Regions from separate parts of the Homo sapiens genome. Here region 1 is linked to region 2. A link means that fine-mapping ties the variant in region 2 to the expression of a gene that starts in the linked region. Tissue or cell type: monocytes. Region 2 holds a variant in brackets; the other region holds the start of a gene. All regions are shown on one strand. Distances are from middle to middle.

What was found. PIP is the estimated chance that this variant, and not a neighbour inherited with it, causes the effect.
Region 1: it holds the start of ENC1, and the variant in region 2 is fine-mapped to the expression of ENC1 in monocytes (BLUEPRINT, PIP 0.90).

The regions. Positions count from the first base shown.
Region 1 is chr5:74,639,687-74,642,366 of GRCh38, forward strand. ENC1 (ectodermal-neural cortex 1) reads right to left here and starts at 1,042. Exons shown (of 3, transcript NM_003633.4): 1 at 621-1,042. It also overlaps a transcript of HEXB not described here. RefSeq lists enhancers at 491-850, 1,312-2,027, 2,028-2,680 and a silencer at 891-1,150.
Region 2 is chr5:75,631,421-75,634,100 of GRCh38, forward strand. The region is part of intron 5 of ANKDD1B (ankyrin repeat and death domain containing 1B); the gene reads left to right. Among named protein-coding and RNA genes, the nearest start is that of ANKDD1B, 21 kb to the left of the region's middle. The variant C/T (reference allele first, on the strand shown) is at 1,296.

The sequences.
Region 1 (2,680 bases), 990 kb before region 2:
TGCCTGTGTGACACCAAACCGCATGTGGATAAATTCAGTGTTTCATCTCCAGGCCCACCAATTCCTATCCTTTGTAACTAATAATGTTAACACGACAGATCAAGAAACTAGTTTTTCAGAAAGCAGTTTTCATTCATTCTCTATAGACATTTCCGCCGCAGTGAACATGCCCGCACTCAGGGTGTCTGTGCATGGCCCCAACTTTCCTCCAAGCCGGGGAGGATGCAACGTGGGCCAACCATCCCGCGCGCTCGGCCCTGGAGGCTGCGGGGAGCGACGCAGCGCGACATTCACCCCCAGGAAAGCGCTGCTTTCCGCAGAGGAGAGAGGCTGACTGTATCCTTAGCTCGGCTCCTCGCTTCCCCAGCGGCTCGCCCCAGACATTGCACCGCGGAGGGGAGGCCGGTCGACCTCTCCGGCGATGCCCGGCTTCTGCCTGCTGTGGGAGGGCAGCGGCGGGCACCGTGATCTCCGCACCGAGAAGAGCTCCCCTTGCCCTCTAGTCGAAGCTCCCGAGTGCTCGGAGCACGCTCACCCCTCGCGAACACACCCCTGCAGCCGAAGCAGCCCCTGAAGCCCGCAGCGCCTGCAACAGGTCCGGGGCAGTGGGGGAAACTTACAGCAGTGGCGACTGGCCGCAACGCACAACTGAGTTCTAGCGACGGTCACGGGCAAGGAGGCGACGAACCGGTCGTCTCAGCCCAGGGAAGCGGTGGCGAATGCCCCGGAGAAAGGAGGGCCAGCCGGGGAGAGGACTGCGCCCCGAACGATGGCTCGCGGACCGGCTACCGATGGCGTTCGCCTCCGTCTGTCGTCCCCACGCCGCGGACCCGGTGTCCAGGACCCGCAGAGCGTCTCCGGAGCGCGTCACGGTAGGGCAGAGCAAGCCTGCCACTGCAGGCGCCGCGGAAGGAGGCGGGCTGTGCGCTCGGGGGAGGGAGCTAGAAAGCGCCTTGTGTGCCGGCGGCCGCCAGGCGTCTGGACCGGGTCTCCGCAGCGCCACCGCCGCACCGCCTCCTCTCCGGCTGCCAGAGCAGTCTGCGCCCCGCCGCCGTGCGCCCCGCTATAAGTGGCGCGGCGGGGAGGGGAGGGGGCGCGTATGCAAAGAGACCGACACCGGGGGAGGGAGGAAGCGCATTAGCGCGGCCTGTGGTGTAGGAGGAGGAAGAGGAGGAGAAGGAGTGGGAGGAGGAGAGGAGCTAGAGAAGAGCGTGTCGGGGGAGTTAATCGGGAGAGGAAGCGGGAGAGGGGGGCTGCGGGGAGTGCAGAGAGACAAAGCGGACGCACTGTCTCAGCCGCTGGCAGCTGCAACCCCGGGAACCGAGAATAAAATAAGTTTTCCCGGGTTCGAGTGTCTGCGCCTCTTTGGGCCAGCCTGGTTAATGGACAGCCCCGGATCTGAGGGACCCACCTTAGGGGAGCGCAGCCCGGGGCTGTGCGCTTGGTGATGCCAGAGCCCGCGAGATGCTCTAAAAAGGGCTGCAAGGGGCGAGCTGGGTATCCGCAGGACAGGCCCTGGGCACGCATAGACAGCGCCTTGGGTAGGACACCCAGAGTGGGGAGAGATAGTGGCAATGGACGGGCAAAAGTCTGGACAGTTTAGGGACACTCGGGTTGAGCAAGCCAGGACGTTTAAGTTTCTTGCTGGCAGAGAGCCAAAGAGACTCCAGCCCCAGGCATTTCCTATGTGTCCTCCCTCCCCACTCCCCAGTGGGTGCGGCACCCCCGGCTGGACTCTGCCCTAAGCCAGGCGACTGCAGGGGCAGCCGGGGCGCAGTCCTGCGGGGCGCGCACCACGTGCTTTTCAGCCAATCGCCGCGGCCGCTTGATTCAAAGTGAACTCCTCAAAGCAGCAGCCACGCCGCCTCCTCTCCTAGCGATTAAGCCTCCATCACCTTCTCCTGTTTTTTATCGCTCGGTGGTGTTAGTTTGGAGTTCAGTAAAGAAATGGCCCAGCACACACACACGTTTAATAGTCCCGCGTGTCAGGAGAAGGGAAGGCGATTCGAAAAATAATCTCGCGTGGTGATCACTTTTACGAATCCCATTTATCTTTGCAACTAGAGGCTTGTCTTTCCACTGGGAGTTAAAATATCTGTCTTTTATTCGGTATTTGGAGCTAAGTCTATAAATGAACGGGATAGATGACCGGTCCAGCCCCCTTGTTTTACAGGTGGGGAACCGAGGCCCAGGGAGATGTGAATTGCCTGGCTCGTAGTCACTTAGCAACAATGTCCCAGCTCTGCAGCTCGAGAGTGAGGGCCCCACGACAGAGTTTATTCCGTCCCCGGGTCCCCGCGTCCCCAAGCGCCCGCGCTTCGCCTCCCAGCTTGCTTTAAAACACTAGGCGCAGGAGCGATTTAAACTGGCTAAGGAGGCCCCACATGGCGCTTCCAGAGTCCAGACTGCTGAAACCAAGACTGTCAGTTCTTCATTCTAATTTCATTTTCCTTTATCCTTGTTCCTTCCTGGTATTTGCGCCGAGAAATTTCGCTCCTTGCAAACAAAGAAAGACAGTGCCCTCTGAAGTCCTTTGTTAGCATTAACTCGGCAGCCTCACCACGAACCTTTCAATATATATATTTTTTAATGCAGAGTCTCGGCTTGAGGCTGATTCACAGAGACAGCCCGGATCAATTCATGTCAAGAACCACGTATGGAGAGCCAGGGGGGCTGCGAG
Region 2 (2,680 bases):
ACAGATGAATTATAAATTCCAGAAGGGGAAACCATCTTTTGGGCTTCTCTGAGTGCAGTGACTCTTGGAACTAGGCATCTCTCTCATGGGGACCCTGAAAGCTGTGCCTAAGGAGTTATTCAGGAGATATTTATTCTTGTGGGGCATGAGCCTTCTAAGCCAGGATGGCTCCGACCCATCCAATGTGGATCTTGTCACTTTGCAACTAAGCGCTCATCTGGGGGTCCAAAGACAATACCTCCTGGACAGCTATGTGGACCGTGTCATGAAGAGAAAACAGCTGATAGATACTGACAAGCTGTAATTTGTGCCCACATCTTCTGAGAAGACTGGTGCCAGATGTTGCCTGTGATAACTTTATGAGTCTGAAATGTTTAGTTGAACCTTAAAAGACTCACTGGTGGGCTAGGCGCGGTGGCTCACACCTGTAATCCCAGTACTTTGGGAGGCCGAGGCAGGTGGATAACTTGAGGTCTGGAGTTTGAGACTAGCTTGGCCAACATAGTGAAATCCCGTCTCTACTAAAAATACAAAAAATTAGCTGGGCATTGTGGTGCGCGCCTGTAATCCCAGTTACTTAGGAGGCTGACGCAGGAGACTTCCTTGAACCCAGAAGGCAGAGGTTGCAATGAGCCAAGATTGTATCACTGCACTGCAGCCTGGGCAACAGAGCAAAACTCTGTCTCAAAAAAAAAAAAAAAAAGAAGAAAAAGAAAAAAAGACTCATTGGTGGACATTGAAGTTGCTCATAATTCTCTGACATAGGCAGTTGATTTAAGGAAGCCATCTAGTCAAAGGTGACAGAAACTCAACCCAAACCATACTAAGGAAAGGAATTTATTGGCTCATTCAATTAAAAATCTAGCCATGGATTCAGGTATGTCTGAATGCAGGAGATCAAATGATGTCAGCAGGGCTCTTTATCTCTTCCTAGTTTTCAACTCTGCTTTTCACTGTGCTGACTTCATTCTTAGGCAGGGTCTTCTTATCAGGTGGCAAAGAGGACTACTAACAGCTAGCTGATGGCTCTAGAATAAAAATAGGATAAGCCAAAAAAATATCTCATGGTTGGCTCTCATAGGCCTAGCATGTGACCATCCCTGAACCAAGCACTGTGGCCAAGGGATAGGTGGTAGAAGAGGCAGGAGCCTATAATTAACAGCTCCACAAAATGAGCCAGGGGTCATTCTCCAGTGTAAAAGATAGCAGGCAGGAATCAGGTAACAAGTGCTCTTTTCTTCTGTTCCAGTGCATTACCAACCTTTAAAGGCCTTCTTCCACCATTTCTCACCACC[C/T]GCCTTTCCAGCCACAAACACACTCATGCTGAGTTATGTACCCCCATATATAAGCAGCACTCGGTTACTACATTACATTATAATTACTTGCTTATGTGTCCATCTCTCCTTTTGGACTCTGAGCTTGAGGATGGGCAATATATTTCTCATCTTGGTCACTCTATTGCTTAGCACATTATCTGGCATATTCATAGGCGCTCAACAATTGTTGAACAAATGAATGAATTATTTATGAGGATATGTGACCAGATGTTTTCATCTGGTATATAATCACTGTCTCTTGTTCCCTCTTTTTGATTTGTTTACATGAAACTTTACCTGTAGTCACTATTTGCAGATATTGATATATCAAACACAATGATTTTTGGTCTGTCATTTCCAAAGAGTTGCTCATGACTCAAGATTAAATTTTACCCTTCAATTAGTGCCTACCTTGAAAGCAGAAAACTGTGGTTCCAAGCAGTCTCTGTTTCTTTCCTTTGCCATTTCTTAGTGATTTCCTGAGAATGAAATCACTAAACCCTTTGAAGGGCTGGGGATGTAGATCTCATTGGTGACATATGTGGCCCAAGAATGATGAATTAGGTGAACTTTTTGGTGCAAATTTGTTTCTCCAGCTTCCATACATGCATAAATACAGACCTCTGTAGGACTGATCTTTATAGATTTGTTTTTGTCTTCGCTTTTTGCCATTTATTATTTCAGCATTTTTTCTTCCTTTTTTTCTCCAGTTATTGGGGGCTCCTATGTTGTTATCTCAGGTTAACAGTGGCCGTGATCTTTTCATTACCCTATTTTATCAAGTGTTAGATGAGGCTCATATCTATTTTTTAACATTAAGACACCTTGCTAAGCTTTCAGTTAGTAACACACTAAGCCAATCTGTGAGTGTTTTCTTCTCTTTAATTGAAGAAAATACTTCTGCTACCGTATTGCCACCACAACTTCCTTTTCCTTATTTTAATTATCTCAAGTTACAACATTACATTTTCTGTGGATCTGTTATAGTTTGGCTATGCTTTGTCCTCACCAGAATGCATGTTGAAATTGGATCCCCAATCTGGTGGTGGTAGGAGGTGGGACCTATTGGGAGATGTTTGTGTCATGAGGGTGGATCTTTCATGAATGGCTTGGTGACATTCTTCAGGTACTGAGTTCTCACTCTGGTGGGACTAGATTCATTCTCATAGGAATAAATTAGTTCCCACAAAGGTGGGAGCTAGGATGCTCTTGGGTTTTGTCCCTTCACACATGCTTGCATCCCTTTGACTTTCTCTGTCATGTTATGACACAGTGTGAAAGCCCTCACCAGAAGCCAAGACCATGCCCTTGAACTTCCAGCCTGCAGAACTGTGAGCTAAATAAACCTCTTTTCTTTATAAATT